Linked DNA regions of Homo sapiens. Each later gene encodes a partner of the first gene's protein in a complex. Each region holds a gene or a part of one and is shown on either strand. Other genes may lie near its edges. The genes, in order: XRCC1 and APLF.

Region 1 (7,259 bases):
TTAATTAACCATATGTATGGGTTTATTTCTGTACTCTCTTCTCTGTTCCATTGATATGTATAGTTTTCTTTATGCCAATACCAAACTGTCTCTTTTTTTAACCATATTATTTATTTATGTATATATGTATTTATTTATTTATTTATTTATTTATTTGAGATGGGGGTCTCACTCTGTTGCTCAGGTTGGAGTACAGTGGCATGATCTCAGCTCACTGCAACCTCTGCCTCCTGGGCTCAAGTGATCCTCCCGCCTCAGCCCCCCAAGTAGCTAGTGGGAGCCATCATGCCCGGCTAATTTTTAAATATTTTTTGTAGAAATAGGGTTTCACTGTGTTGCCCAGGCTGGTCTTGAACTCCTGAGGTCAGGTGATCCACCTGCTGCGGCCTCCCAAAGTGCTAGGATTACACATGTGAGCTGCTGTGTGTACCTGGCCTACTCTTTTTTTTTTGAAACGAGGTCTCACTTTGTCACCCAGGCTGGAGTGCAGTGGCACGATCTCAGCTCACTGCAGCCTTGTCCTCCCGGGTTCAAGTGATCCTCCTTCCACAGCCCCTCAAGTAGCTGGGACTACAGGCTTGCACCACCATGCCCAACTTTGCACTAGTCAGTGTGACAAGGTGAGAAAAAGAAAAAAGAAAACTATCTTTTTTCACAGATGGCATGATTGTCTATGCAGAAAATCCCAAGAGATCTAGACAAACTACAAGGTTTAGTAAGTGAAGGTCACAAGATGAGAAGTCAATATACAAAATAAACTGTATATTACACATCACTTCTGTGGTATTCTGGCCAAAGTGTGCAACCTAAATTAATCACAAGGAAACATCAGATACTTTGTACAATAAGTGATATCTGACAAAAATCACTGACCTCTACTCTTCAAAAACATCAAAGGCACAAACCCAAAGTCACAGGAGCCTTCCTTCCTTCCATTCTCCCTCCCCTCCTTCCCTCCCTCCTTCCTTTTTTTTTTTTTTTTTTTTTTTTTTTGAGATGGAATTTTGCTCCTGTTGCCCAGGCTGGAGTGCAGTGGTGCAATCTCGGTTCACTGCAACCTCCGCCTCCCAGGTACAAACGATTCTCCATCTTAGCCTCCCAAGTAGCTCGGATTACAGGCCTGTGCCACCATGCATGGCTATTTTTTTTGTATTTAGTAGGACAGGGTTTTCCCATGTTAGTCACCAGATGATAAATGCAGCTTCCCTGTCAGCTCCAAATCAGGCCTTTTATAAACAAGTATAGTCAAGGTCAGGAAGAAAACTTCCCTTCTGTATAATTGTCTTTCTTGTTTCCTTTGCATAATCAGCTGTGCACAAAGAGAGCTATAGTTATGTTCTGTTTTTCTCAGCAAAAGGCTTTATTGTCCAATTTTATAATTTCACAGCATGTCAGTTAGAAAAGAGACTAAGTCAGTAACAAAATATACCCAACCAAAAGTGGCTGCATTCATCTTTTTTTTTTTTTTTTTTTTTTTTGAGACGGAGTCTCGCTCTATTGCCAGGCTGGAGTGCAGTGGCGCAATCTTGGCTCACTGCAACCTCCGCCTCCTGGGTTCAAGTGATTCTCCTGCCTCAGCCTCCCGAGTAGCTGGGACTACAGGCACGCGCCACCATGCCCAGCTAATTTTTTTGTATTTTTAGTAGAGATGGGGTTTCACTATGTTGGCCAGGATGGTCTCGATCTCCTGACCTCGTGATTTGCCTGCTTTGGCCTCCCAAAGTGCTGGGATTACAGGTGTGAGCCACTGTGCCCAGTCTTTTTGTTTCGTTTTTTGTTTTTTGGCAGAGTCTTGCTCCGTCACCCAGGCTGGAATGCAGTGGCACAATCTCGGCTCACCATCACCTCCAACTCCTGGGTTCAAGCGATTCTTGTGCCTCAGCCTCTCGAGTAGCTGGGATTATAGGTGCCTACCACCATGTCCAGCTAATTTTTGTATTTTTAGTAAAGACGGTGTTTCACCATGTTGGCTAGGCTGGTCTTGAACTCCTGGCCTCTTGTCCACCAGGCTTAAGTGCAATGGTGCGATCTCAGCTCACTGCAACCTCCGCCTCCTGGGTTCAAGCAATTCTCGTGCCTCAGCCTCCCGAGTAGCTGGGACAACAGGCGTCTGCCACCATGCCTGGCTTAAATTTTGTATTTTTAGTAGAGATGGGGTTTTACCATGTTGGCCAGGCTGGTATTGAACTCCTAACCTCAAATGATCCGCCTGCCTTGGCCTCCCAAAGTGCTGGGATTACAGGCGTGAGCCACCGCGCCTGGCCTCAGCTTGGGTTTTTCAATGCAGATTGCTAACATGAATTGCTACTCTCAATTCCTTGAGAGAACAGACTTGTGAGGAGTTCTCCCGAGAAGAATTTTCACCTCTTCTTTGGTGTCCCCCCAAGCTAAGGCCAAGACAGACAGGCCTCCCAGGGACTCTTTCCACAGGCTTATTTCCCCTTCATGTAACTAGTGTGGGCGTTGCCTTTGGGGAGTCCTCAGTTCTATGCAGTGTGGTGAGGATCTCTGAGATGCCACTCTCCCTTGCTTGGAGCCTAGGTTTTCTCTCTTGTTCTCTTTCACCACCACGTGCATAACCCTTAAAGATCAAGTTCTAGCTGGGTGTGGTGGCTTACACTTGTACTTCTATAGCTTTGGGAGGCTGAGGTGAGAGGATCATTTGAGGCCAGGAGTTCAGGACCAGCCTGGGCAACATAGCAAGACCATGCCTCTACAAAAAATAAAAAATTAGCCAGGTGTGGTGTCGTGCATCTCTAGACCCAGCTACTCAGAGGCCAAGGTGGGAGAATCACTTGAGACCCAGAGGTCGAGGCTGCAGTGAGCTATGATCGCACCACTGTGCTCCAGCCTGGGTGACAGAGAAAGACCCTGTCTCTTAAAAAAATAATAATAATAAATAAAATCAAGTTATTTGCTATCTGGGATCAGCACCATGACAAACTACCAACATGAGTGCTGCCGGGTCAGTCAGGGTCCTTGCCCGGAGATTAAAACCACACCAGTTATTTTAACAGATAATTTGATAGAAAGAACCAGTAACTAGGTGTTACTAGAAGACTAAGATATGAGGGAGAAGCAACCGCAGGGAGTAGCTACCACTCCCAGGGTTGGGGGAACAAAAGAAAGGAGCAGGAATTATTGAAACGTAGATGTTTGGAAACTGGGAGGTGGGGCTCCAGGAGCTGAAATTCAGATCGTTTGAGGAGGGCTTCCTCCCCCACCGGCTGCTGAGAGGGGCTGAATGAGGCTGTTTCTGGAGGTATTGGGACACTGCAAACTGGATTCATCTGCTGCTGCAGGCAGGAACCACTGCAGCAGCAGAAGCTTAACTGGGGGTGATGCTCACAGGATCTGCAATGCACGAGAAGCTGGTCCTTCCTCCCTCCTGCAGCCTTGCAAACTCTCTCTCTTGCCCCCCCTATTGGCAGAGCCTGGTCACGATCAGCTAGGGAAGCAGAAAGGTGGTTTGCCAAGTGCGGGCCCAGATCACAGAGATGAGTTGTAGAGGGTAGGTTTGAGCTGAGAAACAATCACTTAATACTTAGTGCAGCTCGCCTGACTCTCTGGATTCTGTTTTCTCATTTCCAGCCTCTAGTAATTCCCCTTGCCTTTCCGCTGACTCACCTGTGCATTTCCAAAAGGTGTTTGAATATTGTGCCAGTTTACTGAATATTCTCTGCCGGGAAAGTTCCTTAGGACATGTAGCCCGCTGTATTGCCAGATATGGAAGACTCCATGGGAGAATTTAGATAAGGGTCGCTCACATCTGGAGGATAAAGAGATCCCTCTGGGGCCTGTGTCAGGGCAGGACTGACTCAAGGCCTAGAAACAAAGGGTCTGGAGACATCTAGGCCCAAGCTACATTCTAGTGACTCCCAGTCCCCTGTGTGGGCCCTGTGCCCTCTTCCCCAGCCCCTAGAAGCTCTCATCTAAGCCAACCTGCCCTGGTTCTCATGCACTGTGGCTTCTCCCACCCAGGTCCTTCTGGTCACCTCATCTTTCATGTCCCCTTCCGAGAGCCGCAGTGGCTCAAACCCCAACCGCGTTCGCATGTTTGGGCCTGACAAGCTGGTCCGGGCAGCCGCCGAGAAGCGCTGGGACCGGGTCAAAATTGTTTGCAGCCAGCCCTACAGCAAGGTACCTAGGGTGGGAGCCAGGGTGCAGAGTCCTTGGTCCTGGGCAAGGAGGGAAATAAGGGCCAATATTGAGTCCCATAGGGCTGGGAGGAGTAGACAGCTGGTGTCCCATGGGATTATGGGGAGGCTGGGTCCCTGCGTTCCCTGAAATGGGTTTGGGATCTTTCCTGTAATGAGAAGTTTCATCTCCCGGAGGAATCTAGGAAGGGTGAACTGCAGCATCTCAGAGGGGAATCGGAGGAGGGGAACTGACTTGTTAGAGAGGTGGCCTAGTAGAGTGGGCCTAGTAGTTAACATCAGGAGATCTGGCGTCTGATTACTGAGTTCACGTCCTGGCTATACCACTTTTTAGCTGTGTGATCTTGGGCAAGTGACTTACGCTCTCTGGGCCTCCATTGCCTGATCCTTACAGGGTTGCTGTAGGTTAAGGGATGCTAAAAGCTGTGGTAACAGTGAGACTGGAGTATGTGATGATGCCACACACTAAAGGTGTGCTTCTTGCCCAGGTAACTGTCCTGGGGAGTGTTTAGCCTGTCAGCTGGCTTCTCCTTATGAGGTCGTGCAGGGACCCAGACTTCTCCTATTTTCTGGCTCTGCATCCAGCTGGCAGAGGAGAGAGCCTGGAACACTTCTGTGTTCTGGAAGTGGCACGCAGCACTCCCTCCCATTCCACAGGCAGGAGTTTGTGCATAGGGCAGTGAATTCGCTGGGACACCTAGTAGACTCTGCCAATTGCCCAAAGAGCTAATGCGTGAAAAGGGCTTGGAGCCAGACTCAGAGTTAGGGCTCAGTCATAACAGCTTAATCCTATAATTGTCATCACCATCGCCAGGGCCCCTCCTTCAACATGGGTGTTCATGAGAGGGAAGGAGCCAGGAAGAGGTTTCCCTGAGTGAAAAGGGTCTTGGGCCCTGGCCTCTGTCCTTGGGCCAGACTCCCTGACTCCCACCCCTCCTTTCCCAGGACTCCCCCTTTGGCTTGAGTTTTGTACGGTTTCATAGCCCCCCAGACAAAGATGAGGCAGAGGCCCCGTCCCAGGTAAGCTGTACCTGTCACTCCCCATGGCCTTCTCCCTGCCTCTCCACCCCCACCTGCCAGCAGCCCACCTATAATACTGACCTTGCGGGACCTTAGAAGGTGACAGTGACCAAGCTTGGCCAGTTCCGTGTGAAGGAGGAGGATGAGAGCGCCAACTCTCTGAGGCCGGGGGCTCTCTTCTTCAGCCGGATCAACAAGACATCCCCAGGTGAGCTCGGACAACGTGGGTCCTGAGTGAGTAGGGTTGAGACCTAGACTCGTGGGTCTGAGGGTAGAGGGGGCTGGGGCTCAGATTCCTGGGTCTGAGGGAGGAGGGTAGTGGAGTCCTGGACTCCTGGGTCTCAGGGTGGAGGAAGGTGGGCCTGGCCTCTTGTGTCCTGAGGGTTGAGAGGTCTGGAGGCTGGGACTCCTGGATCACTGGTGGGTTTTGGCAACAATATTCTGTGTCCCATAGATAGGAGTGAAAGGGTCTTGGGGCTCAGCCCTCTCATCCTGGATCCACTTTCTCCCTTCATAGTCACAGCCAGCGACCCAGCAGGACCTAGCTATGCAGCTGCTACCCTCCAGGCTTCTAGTGCTGCCTCCTCAGCCTCTCCAGTCTCCAGGGCCATAGGCAGCACCTCCAAGGTGAAATCATCAGACTTTGGTGGGGTGGAGGAGGAGAGAAGCTGGAGGCCTCAATCCATCCCCATCCCCTCAGCCCCAGGAGTCTCCCAAAGGGAAGAGGAAGTTGGATTTGAACCAAGAAGAAAAGAAGACCCCCAGCAAACCACCAGCCCAGCTGTCGCCATCTGTTCCCAAGAGACCTAAATGTGAGCTAACTAGATCCCTTGTTTCCACAGGGGCCTGTGCTCCTGTGTCCTAGGGGAAGCGGGGCTGGAGCCTGCTGTCCTGAATCTGAGGGAGGAAGGGCTGGGGGCCTGGACCCCTGGGTCTGAGGGAGGAGGGGCTGGGGGCCTGGATTCCTGAATCCGAGGGAGGAGGGGCTGAGGGCCTAAACCCCTGGGTCTGAGGGAGGAGGGGCTGGGAGCCTGGACCCCTGGGTCTGAGAGAGGAGGGGTTGGGGGCCTGGATCCCTGGGTCTGAGGGAGGAGGGGCTGGGGGCCTGGACTCCTGGGCCTGAGGGAGGAGGGGCTGGGGGCCTGGACTCCTGGGTCTGAGGGAGGAGGGGCTGGGGGCCTGGACCCCTGGGTCTGAGGGGGGAGGGGCTGGGGCCTGGATTGCTGGGTCTGAGGGAGGAGGGTCTGGGGCCTGGACTGCTGGGTCTGAGGGAGGAGGGGCTGGGGGTTGACCCCCAGTGGTGCTAACCTAATCTACTCTTTGTCTTCTCCAGTGCCAGCTCCAACTCGTACCCCAGCCACAGCCCCAGTCCCTGCCCGAGCACAGGGGGCAGTGACAGGCAAACCCCGAGGAGAAGGCACCGAGCCCAGACGACCCCGAGCTGGCCCAGAGGAGCTGGGGAAGATCCTTCAGGGTGTGGTAGTGGTGCTGAGTGGCTTCCAGAACCCCTTCCGCTCCGAGCTGCGAGATAAGGCCCTAGAGCTTGGGGCCAAGTATCGGCCAGACTGGACCCGGGACAGCACGCACCTCATGTAGGCTTGCGCCCCCCTCCCTGCGCCGCTGCAGTTTCTCCCCCAGCTCCCTGTGTCTCCTCCACCTTGTGCTTTCTCTGTGTCCACTATGCTGCATGCTTTCTCTCTCTCTCACTTGCTTTCTTTCTCACTGCATTCTGTAGCCTTTGTCTTCTCTCTGATTTTTGCATCTCTCCCTTGGTCTCCAACCTCTTTTTGTTTCTCCCACCTCAATCTCATGATCTGTCTGTCTGTCTGTCTCTCTCTCTCTCTGTCTGTCTCCCCTGTCTCGTTCCCCTTTGCCCCTCAGATCACACCTAACTGGCATCTTCACTTCTGCCCCCCACCAGCTGTGCCTTTGCCAACACCCCCAAGTACAGCCAGGTCCTAGGCCTGGGAGGCCGCATCGTGCGTAAGGAGTGGGTGCTGGACTGTCACCGCATGCGTCGGCGGCTGCCCTCCCAGAGGTAAGGCCTCACACGCCAACCCTGCTCCTTATCCTGTGCTGGGC
Region 2 (5,337 bases), on another chromosome or scaffold:
AAACTACCAGTGGGCTAGTTGAGTAGAGTCTTCAAAGCTGAGACCTGTAAATAAAGACTTTAGATTTTATTTAGAGTGAGACAGAAAGCTATTGGAAGGTTTTCTGACTTTTTTTTGTGAAGAATAGACTAGAATGGAAGCAAGAGAGCCAGTTAGGAGGATATTGTATTCAGGAAGAAAATGATAGTATTGGGGCCAGGGCATTAGAGTGGATGTGATCAGAAGTGGTGGATTTACTTTGCAGGTAAAGCTAACAGGATCTCTTGAGGTATTAGATGTTGGGTTCTCGGTGAGGGATATTAAAGGATGACTACAAGATTTCTTGCTAAAACAACTAGATGGTTGGATGATTAGAGAAGTCATATATTCAAGACTGATAAATAGAATGACCAGATCTGGGTAAAGCAACTAAAGAGTTATGTTCTGGAAATGTTATATTCCAGGTGCCTGTAAGTCATCCAAGTACAGATAATGCTTAAGTATCCAGATAAATGAGTCTGGAATTCAGGGCAGTAGGTCAGGGCTTAAGATGTGAATTTGGGAATTTAGGACATAAGACTGGATGGAATCATCTAAGGAGTGAGTTAGAGAAGAGGTTCCAGCTCTAAAATTTAGAGATTAGGATGATGAGGAAAATCCAGCAAAGAAAACTGAGAAGGAGCAGCCAATGAAGTGAGCAGAGAACCTGGAGTTGTTTCACCTTTATATCTGTTTTTCTTGTAAAGCTGGTAAGTGATTTCTGAATCTGAAAGGAAACTGTTTATTGAGATATCATTAGGACATGTTATGTGATAATGTGCATTCACATCTTAGAAAAAAAAGTTATGTGTATAAGGTATTTCCAAGAGGAAAATAGACAAAAATAGAGATATTGATGTTCTTTCCTTCTCATTCCCTTTCCCGACTGCAAACTGCCTTCCAATTTTTAAAAAATGCATTTTATTATTTTAAAAATATGGGTAACTGAGATTAGACATAAAACATGCCCTCAAGATGTTTACAGGAGCTGTATATACAGATATATGTAATGCAAGATTTTCCTTAAGGAACTGGTGAGCTTCCTACTATAATGATAATTGGGCAAGTTATTATATTGCCTTTTTAGCCTTGGCTACCAAGAATCTTGGGGATAAATTTGATGCTCTATTTTTAATAATTGTGTTAAAAATTGAGGTTATCATATGTGTATTCTGCTTTTTATGTTTTTGGTTTCTACCTTTATTAGCATTTTATTATTATAAGCTGTCTCAAATCCTTTCTGGAATGCGTACTGATATTAAGAAAAATATAAATATATTGGGCTATAAGGGTTAAAAGGACAGATACATTACTTCCTTTGTCATTTTTCTCATTTTTCCCAATTCATTGACTTTATTTTTAAAATTATAACTATATGTTGCATGTGAACATTTTAGAAAGATGTTAACCAAAGTGTATACTAAAGTACAGACATTAATGTTTTTAACCTATACATTTGCTGTTCATTAGGGACTGTCCTCTGCCATTCAGATTTCTAGATGAAATCTTCCTAATTGTTTCTTAAATGTTCCACACTGTCCTAGAGTCTTTCACTGCTTTATTTTAAAGCAACTCTGTAGCTCGCTGTGGAAAGAGTAAGATCGGGGAAGAAATGAATTTGGAGACAGAAGAATTCTAGTATTATAATATTACTTAGAAATCTGTAAATTCTAATGTCTATTATTATGGCATTCCTAGTCTTACTGAAACATGAACTGTAAGAATATCTTAGACCTATAAAACTAAACTTTCCAAAGTATCTAAGCTCACGCCCTGATGTGTCAGCAAGCTTTTGCTAGGTTTGCTGTGATAACAAACATTTCTAAATTTCAGTGCCTTATAACAATAAATACACTTATTTAAGTGTATTTCTCCTTATTGCAGCTGTGAATTGGCTGTGGCCCTGTGCCATGTGTATTCTCATCTTGGAATCCAGGCTGAGGGATCAGCCTCTATCTGGGACATGCTGTTCTTGTGGCAGAGGGGAAATGGCAATAGCAGAACCAGAGAAAGAGTCTTAAAGCATCCTTTTGGAAGTGACACACACTATTTCCACTCACATTTCTTTGAGCAATCACTGAGAAGTGAGGAAGTATAATCATATCACAGGAAGGGGCAGTGAATAATTGGGACAAAAATACATTCTACCACATGGGAAGATGGGATGTTGTGAATATGATTATGAGATTAAGGAACCATTATTATTAATCTCATGGGTCATTTTAGTTTCAGGAGCCTCATGGTAGGAAAAGTTAGAATAATAAATAACAAAGCATCATTTTAGTGCCGTTTCCAGAAATTTGTAGTGGTAAGCTATGCATTAATAAAATTAATCCTCTGGATGCAGAAAGACATTTTATAGGTAGATGTCTGTCATCCCAGGTTGAGTGGTGATTGATGTGTTGTGTACCAATCTTCTGTTTTGCAGTGAGAAATGTTTTAGATGAAGATAATGATAATGTTGGGCAACCCAATGAGTATGACCTGAACGACAGCTTTCTAGATGATGAGGAAGAAGACTATGAGCCAACAGATGAAGATTCTGACTGGGAACCAGGAAAGGAAGATGAAGAGAAGGAAGATGTGGAAGAGCTTTTGAAAGAAGCAAAAAGGTTTATGAAAAGAAAATAGTAACTAACTTCTGTAGTCATATCTGCCTTACATTTACTTTTTCTTTGTGGGAAAACATTTATGAACTAAGGAGGTACTTAAGTGACAGTTATTTTCCTTCTTTTGATAGTTAATGACTTTTACTACTGACTCTTTACAAATGAGACATTGAAACGTCAGCCTTCAGTATAATAGATGGAATTTTTTGTTGCCTTGCCTTTTCTTTCCTACTTAAAGCATCTGGAAATAGGAAGACAGAGAAGGTAGAGTAAAAATGGATATTTTTTATGTACTTTGTATATTGGTAATAAAAAGTAAAAGCCATAGGTTGCATAAAACTTTGGTCTTTTTAAATTTTTTTCCAAAGATTATGGAGTACTCTGCAAGTATAACCAGGCAAAGTACATGAAAACATGCCTCTTTTCATTGTTACTGAAGTAATTCTGTAAGCAGAACCAGGCTTTAAAAAATGCAGCCATTACATAATGGCGTTTTTTTTCTAGTACCTTAGATGTGAGCTTTGCAATTTCACTTACTACTTTTATCCTTCAAAACTTGGGAAGATTGGTTCCAAATGGGTACTGAAAATAGATTCAACTAGGCTGTAGAAGAGAAATGTTCACCATGTAGGGAATGTTATTTTGTGTTCCACATCTGCAATTTACTGTATGTTTGAATTTAAAAGTAAAAAAACTCAAAAAACTTGACCTTTTTTTTCAAACTAAAGTCCTAGCTGATTATTTTAACTCTCAGTGTGCTGTCTTTATATTAAGAATAGAGAAACGACATAACTTTCTCAAATGGCATTAGTTTTGCCTTAGTTTTTTTGACCTCAGATGAAAGTAGCAAGTTGTTTGCCAGTTGAAAGTTCAAGATTCTGGCCTCCCATATCAAGAAGAAACCACTTATTCTCCAGTTTTACAAAGTATCTTTCTGTATTTCTGTTCTAAAACTACTTTAAGCCCTATAATGCTCTTCATATTACGTGACTTTGAATTGTTAAAATGTAGTTTAGAATCTTTAATAACAGTTGGGTTGTGTACACAGAGCAGGAGATATTTATTGAAATCATAAATCACTAAGCCAAAAGAATCTTTGTTAAATGCTATTATTTTCTACTCTAAAGGAACCTAAAAATTTATATCTTAAAAGATCAAAACATATTTATAATAATATTTTCTCATTGCTTTAAAATATATCTCCCAGTAATTATACAATATTTAATATTTACTTAAACTGGAACAAGAATAAGATAAACATTTCTCTAGACTATAACCTATTATTCTGATTTTTATCTCTTATTGTTATTTGGGAACTATTTTTCCCCTTATAATGTCCCTTTAGCCTTGGTAGTATAACAAATCTACGAATGTAATATTTAACTTATTCTCATCCCTGCCACTAACTTAATCCTTGAAGTGTTACATAATCTACTCCTAGGTATATACCCAGAGGAATTGAAAACATTTCCACATAAAAACTGTACACAATGTCAATAGAAGCATTATTCTTAACAGCCAAAAAGTATAAACACCCAAAGTCTATCAACTATCAACTGGGTGAATGGATAAGCAAAACGTGGTATATCTGTGCAATGGAATATTATTTGGTCATAAAAAGGAATAAAGTACTGATACATGCTACAAGATAGATGAACCTTGAAGGCAAGTAAAAGAAGCCAGACACAAAAGGCCACATACTGTATGAACTCATTTATATGAAATTTCCAAAACAGGCAAATCCATAAAGACAGAAAGCAAATTTGTGGTTGCCAGGGACTTGGGGAGGAAGAATGGGGAGTGACTGCTAATGAGTATAGGATTTCCTTTTGAGTGATAAAAATGTTCTAAGATTAGATGGCAGTGATGGTTGCACAACTCTGTAAATATATTACAAACAATGCATTGTACACTTTCAAAGGGTAGATTTCATTGCACGTGAACTATATATTTCAATAAATCTGTCACAAAAAAGTAATGCAAAGGGTAATACCAGTCTTTTAGAAGGAAAAAAATATTTAATATCAAAGGATATTCTTCGTAGTAATGTAATAGTTCATGGTAGCTGCTTTTAACGATACAGTTTTAATGCAACTTTCATAATCATCCTGAAGACACTTTTGAGTATAACTATTGTATAAATAAATGTATAGCTTAATTGACTGAAGTGTAATGAAAATGAAAGTGTAATTGGACTGTGTTTAGATCTGTGTTTTCCAAAACAGAGGGAAAACCGGTAACATTAGGCTGTCAGTGGTCTCAAGAGCACCATTAACAAAGCTTGATTTTTTAAATTAATTGCTGTTCTATACAGTGGATAAGAGCCAATTCTCCCTGTCATGGTGTTCCTGGAACTGAAACTATATCCCAGCCTCCTCTGTCATGGTAAAAATTATCATATATACATTTCTCACCTATGTGCCTAATTTTAAAAGCAAATATTTTCTGGCTAAACTTTTGAGGGGGGATGGGTTTTCTAGGACCCTGGGAAACTGGAGACCTGAAGAGTTTTGGGGGACACTTGAACACTGACTTTGGTGTTTTCCCCTGGTTGAGGATGGCCCTATTGATACTGAGTTTCTAGAACTAGAGGATCCTAAACATTCATTGTAATGAAAGCAGATAGATTGTGAGCATAATTACTCCAGAATGTTGATGTAAAGCTGAGAGTAAATGGGTAGTTTCTTACAACTAATTGTTCAGTGTCACC

What was found.
Region 2: the proteins of XRCC1 (region 1) and APLF are in contact, whole or in part, in a crystal structure (PDB 5W7X), measured with the Homo sapiens proteins. Residues at the interface, in NP_006288.2 of Homo sapiens: Pro514, Tyr515, Ala516, Gly517, Ser518, Thr519, Asp520; in NP_775816.1 of Homo sapiens: Arg27, Gly28, Pro29, Gly32, Ile33, Thr34, Lys36, Arg37, Val38, Ser39, Arg40, Arg41, His58, Asn60.

The regions. Positions count from the first base shown.
Region 1 is NC_000019.10:43,551,527-43,558,785, reverse strand, and holds part of XRCC1 (DNA repair protein XRCC1), read left to right. Parts: intron 1-3,981; coding exon 3,982-4,140; intron 4,141-5,102; coding exon 5,103-5,177; intron 5,178-5,273; coding exon 5,274-5,385; intron 5,386-5,694; coding exon 5,695-5,804; intron 5,805-5,877; coding exon 5,878-5,989; intron 5,990-6,510; coding exon 6,511-6,769; intron 6,770-7,098; coding exon 7,099-7,215; intron 7,216-7,259. UniProt on the Homo sapiens protein: Scaffold protein involved in DNA single-strand break repair by mediating the assembly of DNA break repair protein complexes. Negatively regulates ADP-ribosyltransferase activity of PARP1 during base-excision repair in order to prevent excessive PARP1 activity.
Region 2 is NC_000002.12:68,575,374-68,580,710, forward strand, and holds the end of APLF (aprataxin and PNK-like factor), read left to right. Parts: intron 1-2,446; coding exon 2,447-2,649; 3' UTR 2,650-4,789; downstream 4,790-5,337. UniProt on the Homo sapiens protein: Histone chaperone involved in single-strand and double-strand DNA break repair.